2 separate regions of the Homo sapiens genome follow, and region 2 is linked to region 1. A link means that fine-mapping ties the variant in region 1 to the expression of a gene that starts in the linked region. Tissue or cell type: whole blood. Region 1 holds a variant in brackets; the other region holds the start of a gene. All regions are shown on one strand. Distances are between the middles of the regions.

Region 1 (5,328 bases):
CACCATTCTTCCTCAACTCCCCTTTATTGCCGGCCTTATCTTTGACAAGTCCACAGAAGCCGGGGGGGTAGCTTTGCCGTACCCTTCCTTGTCACTGCAGTGTCTGGCACAAGTTATTCCTGGCAGGAAGCAGCTACTAAGCCTTTCCTGTCTACATTACAGAAGCATTACCTTCATCAAAGGGCTGGATGTCAGTAGTTTGACTATAAAACTAGCCATGCAACAGCAACATTTCTATAATCCAAAGACTTGTTGCAAATAATTTGCATAATGTCCTAGGTTCTAGGCCTAATCTTGCCTTTAGAACCTATGTAATGTTTGGCATTTAGCCTTTTGGTAATTCAAGTTTCCTCATTTGTGAAATGCAATCATATCATCCACTCTATATAGCTCAGGGTCATTTTAAAGATAAAATGTGGATAACTGGTATGACTGTGCTTTGAAAACATTAAAGTAGGCCAGGGGCAGTGGCTCACACCTGTAATCCCAGCACTTTGGGAGGCCAAGGCAGGTGGATCACCTGAGGTCAGGAGTTTGAGACCAGCCTGTCTCACAAAAATTAGCTGGGCGTGGTGGCAGGCGCCTATAATCCCAGCTACTCATGAGGCTGAGGCAGGAGAATCGCTTAAACTCAGGAACCTGAGAGGCAGAGGTTATAGTGAGCTGATATCGCGTCATTGCACCCCAACCTGGGTGACAAGAGTGAAACTCCATCTCAAAACAAAACAAAAAACTAGGAAAAAAAAGAAAACATTACAGTAATATTTTAGAATCTAAATAAAAAGTATTCAGCTGTTTTTGAGCTACTGTCACAGGGAAATTCAGGAAGATGTTTAAAAAAAAAAATGAGCTTGTGGCCAGGCGTGGTGGCTCATGCCTATAATCCCAGCACTTTGGGAGGCTGAGGCGGGTGGATCACCTGAGGTCAGGAGTTCGAGACCAGCCTGGCCAATATGGCGAAACCCCATCTCTACTAAAAATACAAAAATTAGCCAGGTATGGTGGTATGCACCTGTAATCCCAGCTACTGGGGAGGCAGAGGCAGAAGAATCACTTGAACCCGGGAGATGGAGGTTGCAGTGAGGTGAGACTGCGCCATTGCACTCCATCCTGGGCGACAAGGGCGAAACTCCACCTCAAAAAAAAAAAGAGCTTGTAAAGTGTGTGGGCCAATTTTGGTATCTTAGAATACATACAGAATAATTCAAGCGTACAATATCTTTCAGACACAATCCAGTTGTACACTCCTTCCTCCAATCAATTTCCTTCTCTTCAAAACAGGGTAATAAAACCTATCCCTAAAGACTGCACTGTAAATATATTTTATGCACATGCACTCACCTCACACATGTGTTTGTTTTGCTAGTGTTTGGTATTTAAGTGAGGTTCCTTCCTTCCCTTGATCCATGGTTTTGAATAACACACAACTCCTACTCATGCTGAATTGCAATTTTTTTTTTTTTTGAGATGGAGTCTTGCTCTGTTGCCCAGGCTGGAGTGCAGTGGCGCAATCTTGGCTCACTACAACCTCTGCCTCCTGGGTTCAAGCAATTCTCTTGCCTCAGCCTCCCGAGTAGCTGGGATCACAGGCCCATGCCCAGCTAATTTTTGTATTTTTAGTAGAGCCGCGGTTTCGCCATGTTGCCTGGGCTGGTCTCGAACTCCTGACCTCAAATGATCTGCCCACCTCAGCCTCCCATAGTGCTGGAATTATAGGCATGAGCCACTGCGCCTGGCTTGAATTGCAATTTTTTGAATACACTTTTTAGTAGCTCCTTTTTTCAAATACCCCATAATCCCTAGATTACGTACCTGTGATATTGGACAATGCCAAAGAATCCATCGAATCCCGAACACTTTGCTCTGGTTTCAGGTCTGACAGACACTCCAGGGAATCTTCATACCACTGTGTTTCATCATGATTATACCCTGAAGCCCCATGGTCCAGTTCCAATTCCTGAAGCCTTCTACTGCTTGCAGGGCCTGGGTGGCTGCCATAAGCAGAATCGCCCAGTCCATCTTGTGACTGTGCCCAGTACATATCAGACTGGTATTTTTTACTTGCAAGGCTCTGGTTATTTTGCTTTAACTCGGTCTTACTTTTAACCATGTTATCAGATATCCAGTGCTCACTGGCTCGAATATCCATCTCATTGGGCTGTGGCTGAAAGAGGCTTTTATCACCAAACTTGAGGAGGAGCTGCGTCATATAATCTTCATGATCAGCCCATTCTTCAGGGTCTTCTGGAGTTTCCTGCTCTACTCTGCCTTTCCAAAATTCTTCACTGGCAAAACTTGTTCCTTGTCTGGAGAGACTCAGATCATCCAATTTTCGAGAAAGGGTGTCATCAGCATTGCCTGAGAGGCCAGGAAACTTGTAGTTCAGAGCAGGCGATAAGAGGAGAGACTGTCTACACTGATCTGCTGACCGGCTGCTCTTGCCCATTCGGACACTTCTTCGGGAGTCTCTTGATCGAGCTGACTGAAATGCAGAGTCGGAAGAATCAGAGGCATGGACGTCTTCACCAAGACTGCACGTTTTTGAGCAGTAAATCTGACCCTGTTTGGGAAGGAAGGGACATCCCAACAAAGAGGCTTTACACTGGGCACAAGAAAAGCAGGCTTCCGTGGCGTGCCAGTGCTGCCCGTCATAGGTCATCTGTGCATGGTCCACACCTGTTTTGAAAAGGATAGAATAAATAACAGGTTATGGTTTAATGCCTGAAACAAGGTATAAGGAAGAAACGAAGAAAATAAATAAAGATTATGGGTATGGGGGAGCTGTGTGGGTGACACAGATATAATTAATCCTCATTCTTTGTGGATTCTGTATTTGTGAGTGTGCCTACTCATAAAAATTTATTCACAACTCCCAAACTAATATTCGCAACAGTTTCATGGTCATTCGCAGATGTGCAGAGTGGTAAAAATACGAACTGAACCAACATGCACTGATCCAGGAGATGCTCAGCTTTTTGTTTCAGCTCTCATACTGTAGACAAGTGTCCTATTTCTGGTCTATCTACTGCCGCGTTTTCTGCATTTTTGTGCTCTTTGTTGGTGAGTTTACTGTTTAAAATGGCCCCCAAGTGTAATGCTGATAATGCTGAAATGCTGTCATGTTGCTAAGGGCAAGAAGGCTGTGATGTGCCTTACAGAGAAAAGACATGTATTACGTAAGCTCCTAATCTTGAGTACGGTAC[C/T]ACTGGCTGTGAGTTCAATATTAATGCATCAACAATGTACATTCAATAAGGCAGTGGCTTTAAGCAAAAACACACGTGAAACAAGGTTATGTATTGATGGGTTGATGAAACTGCTGTGACCAGAGGCTCACAGGAACCTAACCCTGTATTCCCCCATGAGCAATGGTTCAGTGTTCACTAATCCAGTGTTTGCAGTAACGTCACAGAACACAACTACTGCAAGTAACAAGAATCAACTCTCTGTTCATTTGTCAAAGCTCATCAGCTGGAACATTTAAGATCTGTACATTTCATTGTATGTAAATTATATCTCAACTTTAAAAAACAGAAAAAGAAAAAATAAGACTGGATAATCCAAGACAGACTAATGGCTAGGTGACAGGGCAGACGGGCTGGCTGTGGACTTACCAATATGTTCCCCACAGGTTTCACAGTACTCCGCATAGAGAGACTCAAAACAGCCACAGCAGAAGGGGCGGCCGTCCTTCATGATATACCTCTGTCCTCCCAGGACCGTTTCACACTCAAGGCAGCAGAAGTGTTTCATGTGCCAATGGCGACCCTCAGCTTCTGTGCACTCATCAGCAAAAATTATCTTCAAAAAGAAATGTGAAACCAGAGAATGAAAGAAAATCATTAGGAACTATTTTAAAGGCCAAGTAACTGCATGTTTTCCGGGCAATGGACAGACACTGGCTCTTAAAAAAATCAGATAGCTAACCTTGTTTCTTAGAGTCACAAGCTTAAATCTAACACTTGATTTAGCTACAAACTAGAGCATAAATTGACAGTGCTGAGAAAACAAACTAAATAATAAATGCTTGCTTTGACTTTAAAAAAACAGAATTCTACACCGGAGGTAATTCATTTGGTCATATTTTTGCTCCCCAATAACATTTTCTTGGCATAATCTGGCAAAGAACACATTAACACGGAAATAATTTAGTGAAATAATTTGGTGTTTTAGTAGAAAGAAAACTCATAAAAATGTCTGTGGACTCAACACAGTTATAGCTACACAGATGCTGGAATTGAGTGAACAGCATTTGTGTTGATAATGCTTTATTTGACTTGGTGGCCATCTCTAGATTAAGGACTCTTTATTTTTTTGAGACAGGGTCTCACTTGTAGCCCAGGCTGGAGCACAGTGGCACAATCATAGCTCACTGCAGCCTCAAACTCCTGGGCTTGAGCGATCCTCCCACCTCTGCCTTCTGAGTAGCTGGGACCACAAGGGCACAACCACCATGCCCAGCTAATTTGAAAAACATTTTGGGACAGAGACGGGGTCTCACCATGGGGTCTAGTCTGGTTCTTTTTTTATTTTTATTTTTATTTTTTATTTTTTTGAGACAGAGTCTCGCTCTGTCACCACGCTGGAGTGCAATGGCGTGACCTCGGCTCACTGCAACCTCCGCCTCCTGGGGTTCAAGCAATTCTCCTGCCTCAGCCTCCTGAGTAGCTGGGACTAAAGGTGCATGCCACCATGCCCAGCTAATTTTTGTATTTTCAGTAGAGACGGGGTTTCACCATGTTTGCCAGGATGGTCTCTGTCTCTTGACCTCGTGATCTGCCCATCTCGGCCTCCCAAAGTGCTGGGATTACAGGCGTGAGCCACCGAGCCCGGCAGGTTCTTTCATTTTTTTTATATTTTTGGTTTCCAAAATATGTTCAGCGGAGCATGGTGGCTCACCCTGGTATTCCCAGCATTTTGGGAGGCTGAGGGAGGTGAATCTCTTGGGGTCAGGAATTCGAGACCAGCCTGGCCAACATGGTGAAGCCCGCCTCTACTAAAAATACAAAAAAAAAAATTAGCTGGGCGTGGTGGTGGGCACCTGCAATCCCAGCTACTCGGGGGGCTGAGGTGCAAGAATCACTTGAACACGCGGGGCGGAGGTTGCAGTGAGCCAAGATTGCACCACGGCACTCCAGCCTGGGCAACAGAGAGCAACTCCATCCCAAAAAAATAAATCAAAACAAAACAAAAACAAAAATATGTTCAAATAGAACATTGTTGAAAAAAATGTATAAAGTAAATGAATGTATAAAAATAAAAACAAAGTTTATTGTCATAGATTGAAGGAGACTAAGAAGATACAACGAGTAAATGCAATGAAGCACCCTG
Region 2 (5,164 bases), 140 kb before region 1:
GCCCAGGCTGGGGTGCAATGGCGTGATCTCGGCTCACTGCAACCTCTGCTTCCCAGGTTCAAGCAATTATCCTGCCTCAGCCTCCCGAGTAGCTGGGATTATAGGCATCCACTACCATGCCTGGCTAATTTTGTATTTTTAGTAGAGACAGTGTTTCACCATGTTGGTCAGGCTGGTCTTGAACTCCTGACCTCAAATGATCCACCTGCCTCAGCCTCCCAAAGTGCTGGGATTACAGGCATGAATCACCACACCTGGCCTAAACCAAGTATTATTAATTCCAAATAAAACCAATACATCAGACCAGTCTGGGTATTATTTGGAAAAAAACAAAAAACAAAAACCAATAAAGTATTAACAATCACCGATTTAATTATGCCAGATGTGTACACCTTCCTTACATTTTAGGAAGTTAGGAACAATGACTCCAGCAGGCTGAATTAAGGAATTCCTTTTTCCCAGTCACCACTTAAAAAAAATTCTTTTTTGGTTCTTCTTCTTTCAAGTATTCTTTATACCAACACTTTCAGTGCCAGATTGTATGGGTAGGGAGACGGGTTTTGAACAGATGAAGGAAAAACCCTGAGGCTACTCCTAACTTCCACTCAGACCATGAGCAAAAAAAATGCTCTATTGAATATGTACTGTATATGTACATTACCTGCACCTTGCTCACCCAGGTCAGAAAGAGCATGGGGACTCAGACAGAACCTTAGCCACTGATTTTTGCTAATACACAGTCATGCTATGCTTAATGAAGGAGGTATGTTCTGAGTGTTACGTGATTTCACAGTGCAGACATCACAGGGTGTACTGAGACAAACCTAGATGGTCTAGCCTATTGCTCCTAGGCTACAACCTGTACAGCATGTTAATGTAGTGAATAATGTAGACAGTTGAAACACAATGGTAAATATTTACATAGCTAAACACAGAAAACGTACACTAAAAATATGGTACAATGTATTACACTCTTAGGAGACCACTGTGGTATATGTGGTTTGTTGTTAATCAAAAAGTTGTTATGCTGTGCATGCCTGTACTATGGCTGGGTACCTTTTTTGCTTGTCTTAATATTTTTTTTCTCTGGAGTGGTGTGTTAAGAGGAAAATTTTCTTTTCCCCTTTTAGTATGATGTTAAGGAGTAAATTTAAGCTTTATGTATCGACAATATAAACTTCTTTCGAAACGCTAATTTTGCTTATTGCCAAATTATGAAATGATACATTATATAAATAGGCTTGGTGCCTCGAAGAGACAGACCTGTAGGTATGTGTGTATATGTATATAAAGTTTACAAATGTAATCAGTAATTTTCACATCTTATCTTACAAAGTCAGCAAATTACCGTGAAAATATCAGGCTCAACCAAATTCAAATTTCTGATTTAAAAAGAGCGTGCGGTGTGTATTTGAGATGGGAAGATCAACCATCACAAATGGAAAAATACTGACTCTATGGCATGCCAATTCGTGAAGGAATGAGAAAACTGCCTCATGTTTGGTGTTATGGGGGAATTATTTAGAAAACTTCAGGAACTCAACATAGATACGTCGCTTTTTAAGTTTCTCATTTGAAACTATGCGTTACACGTTCTGCTGAGAGCCGCGAAGGCAGGCAGAGGTTAAGGTCCTGGAATAAAAAGGGTGGCGGGAGAGAGGGGCAGAGCGTTTTGGCAGCCGAGTCTGGGGAGGGGGCCCCGCAGGAGAGAAGGCCGCAGCTGAGGAGGCGTTTACCTTCAGGTGGGTTGGGCCTGGGAGACCAGAAGAGTGCGAGCCCTCGGCTCAGCTGGGGCTCAACCCCGACTCTTCGTAGCCGCTCGCAGCGGCCTTGGCATCACGAGTCCTGGGAGGGGTCAGGCGCGGAGAGCAGATAATAGCAGCCACGGTGCTTCTTCCCGACTGTTTGAGATCCGGGCCCCGAAGGCGGGCCCAGAGGCGAGCGCTTCGCTAACGTCATTGCGCGCGCCGGAAGTACCTACCTGGGATAACGGCGGCGAGCGGACGGCTGCATTTACGGGGTCTCCCGGAGGGCCAGAGTCGGTGAGCGCTTTTTACCTTTCCCAGAGATGGATGCAGAGCGTGTGCGGGCTGCTAAACGGGGGGGAGTGGGCGGGAGTTTTCTGTGTCGGGTCCTGGATTCTCCTGCCTTTGAATTGTGTGACAATTCTGCCCATGCGGTTGAGGGTGGAGAGACGCAGTGGAGTTTGGAATAAAGGGAAGTATTGAGTCTAAGATAGGGGTTCGCCTCTCTGTAGCGCCTTAATATGCAAGAAGACGACTGAGCTAGGTAACTTCAGTGACCCGAGAGGAGTCAGGAAGTCGGTAATTTTACTGAAGGTGTTCACGGTACCCAGCTATTAGGCACTTTGGGAACTACAAAATAAACAGACCTTTTATGTTTTGTTTTGTTTTGTTTTCTGGTGAAGATCTCAGTCTAGTTGGGGAGACGAGGTCAACTTGGGGAGAGTTGGATTCACAGAATGACTCATCTTTAGTATGGGTATGGACAAGTGTTGATCTTCTTGGCACCTTTTCTCTTCCTGTAAATCTATAATGGCTACGCACTGCTTTTTCTCTAAGAGGCCATAACATGCCCACCATTCCTACAGAAAAATCAGAACGTAATGCAAGGTAATTTATACTTCTGCCTACCAGCACATACAGACCAGGCCTCTAACCACTCCCTGGGAGCCTGCGTTCCAGCAGCCTGGAACCCACAGCCTCTCCTGGAGCCTGCACAATCAATCCAGAGTGAAGCCGATGTCTTCTATAGAGACGGAAGTACAATCCATCCAGGGCGCAGCTGAATTTTGAGAGGCCTGAATGCCTCCGTGGCCGACAGGAGACCGCTGGCACTAATTCTCTAGGCATACTTGTGGCCAGCCAAACTTACCATGCTTTACATCTCTGTTATCCTTGGTTACCGCCCAAGATGTAAGCTTCTGTGGTCTTCTGTGCTATAGTCTCATTTCCATGCTGCTTTGTGCTTTCTTTCGACTTAGGCTATCACTGCTTCTTCGTTTCTTCCCCATTTAACCCCTCAACACCCCATCTGTGCTTTCTGAAACCTCTATTTCCTGCTTAAACTATTTTACATATTCAACTTCTTTAGTGAAATTCTCCTTCATCTCCTAACCTTAACTATTGATAACACGTAGATTTTCCTGCCAGCCATTTCAGTTGAGCCCTTTCTCTGACCCTGCATTTAAAGGTTGGGCATGGCTGTAGCCATGTTGAACGGATTTCAATTCCTCAGAATACTTTCTTCCCTCAGTATCTTCACAAAGGCTCTTTTCTCTCTCTGGGACATTTGAGCTCCCTGTTTCCTCCTATCTTTTTCTGGATAACTTCTATTAAAGATCTGAGTTTAGCTGTCACTTTACTTGAGGGGTATACCCTAACTTCCATAGAGTTAGGTATTTTTGCTATGTACTCTTAGCTGTCCTGCACTTCCCTCACGGCATTTATCACATGTATCTTAATTGCTTCTTTGCCATCCCTACTAAGCGAGACTGTCGGTGAGGGACTGTGTTTGTCTCGTTTATCTTTGTAACTCCAGTAGCTAATACAGTTCTTGGCACATAAGACAGTCAGTTATTTCTTGAATGATTGCAGGTGCTGAAGGTATGCTGCAGAGATCAGGCAGTTAACGTTAATGAATACTTCACCCTTAGAAGGGGTCACCTGCCACTCAGCTACAGCTGATTGTGGCTATGTGAGAATATGATCCCAGTTTTGCCAGAACATCTAATTTTTTCAAAAAAAGTTGGAAATACCATTTTTTAAAAAGCATCCTCTCCCAGTTTTTAAATGTTGTCAGTGGAATAGAATTTTATTAAAAAAAAAAAAGTGGGTCAAACACAAGTCTCATATGGCCTATCAGTCACTAGTTTGGAATCTGTTTTAAGTCTTGTAGGGTTTATATAATGGGCTTTGTGGAGAATAATAGGTTTTGAGTTGGGCCTTGATGGACCGTTGGATGTTGAATGAGAGAATGGAAAAAGATATCCCGTTTGGAAAATAAACAGCTCCGTGGTAGTATGTGTTAGTCTGTTTGTGGCACAGTAAGGAAACAGGCATAATTATATGCTTTTGGAGAGAATAGAAGGTTAGATATAATAGAAGGAGGCATATGGAAGATAGAAGTTTGGATTTATTATGGTTAATAAAAAACCTCTTGGATTCTTGATCCTGGAAACTTCACATTATGAATATGCGTTAACAGTTGATTATCCTTTTTTAGGGTAAAATGGAGGGTAAAACACTGGAAGGAGGCTGACCGGTTAAGGCCTTAACTTCCATCCATATATGAAATAAAATTCAGATTTATAAATATTATATGTAGGCAGACATCTGGCATTTTTGTTTACTTGTGTAATTTCAGTTAATTGATCAATTATAATGGACAATCAGGGATCTCCTACTAAGTTTAGTGCAGTACATTCGGGCTTATAAAAGAAGTATCCTTAAAGCGTTGGAAAGTCAAGTGACTTGTGAAACTAGTAGAGAATGCAGTACTTTTTATTTTTTTATTTTTTGAGACGGTGTCTTGCTCTGTTGCCCAGGCTGGAGTGCAGTGGCACGATCATGGCTCACTGCAACCTCCATCTCCCAGGTTCAAGGGATTCTCCTGCCTCAACTTCCTGAGTAGCTGGAATTACAGGCATGTCCCACCATGCCTGGTTAATTTTTGTATATTTTTTAAGTGGAGACGGGGTATTACTATGTTGGCCAGACTGATCTTGAACTCTCAACCTCAAATGATCCGCCAGGCTCAGCCTCCCAAAATGGTGGGATTACGGGCATGAGCCACCGCACCCAGCCCCAGCATCAGTTAATTTTTTTTTTTCAATGACCTTAACTAATTATGTTCTAAAATTTATGTTTAGTTGTCTGGAATTTCAATTTTTTTTTTTTTTTGTGTGTGTGTGTGACGGAGTCTCACTCTGTCACCCAGGCTGGAGTGCAGTGGCGCGATCTTGGCTCACTGCAAGCTCCCCCTCCCGGGTTCATGCCATTCTCCTGCCTCAGCCTTCCGAGTAGCTGGGACTACAGGCGCCCACCACCGCCCCCGGCTAATTTTGTTTTTGTATTTTTAGTAGAGATGGGGTTTCACCGTGTTAGCCAGTATGGTCTCGATCTCCTGACTTCGTGATCCGCCC

Evidence for each region. PIP is the estimated chance that this variant, and not a neighbour inherited with it, causes the effect.
Region 2: PPHLN1 starts here. The variant in region 1 is fine-mapped to the expression of PPHLN1 in whole blood (INTERVAL, PIP above 0.99).

The regions. Positions count from the first base shown.
Region 1 is chr12:42,462,583-42,467,910 of GRCh38, forward strand. It overlaps PRICKLE1 (prickle planar cell polarity protein 1), which reads right to left. Exons shown (of 8, transcript NM_153026.3): 6 at 3,612-3,798; 7 at 1,813-2,676. Among named protein-coding and RNA genes, the nearest start is that of PRICKLE1, 120 kb to the right of the region's middle. RefSeq lists an enhancer at 2,183-3,382. The variant C/T (reference allele first, on the strand shown) is at 3,204.
Region 2 is chr12:42,324,188-42,329,351 of GRCh38, forward strand. It overlaps PPHLN1 (periphilin 1), which reads left to right and starts at 1,980. Exons shown (of 10, transcript NM_201439.2): 1 at 1,980-2,042. ZCRB1 (zinc finger CCHC-type and RNA binding motif containing 1) reads right to left here and starts at 1,907. Exons shown (of 8, transcript NM_033114.4): 1 at 1,737-1,907. RefSeq lists an enhancer at 1,603-1,652.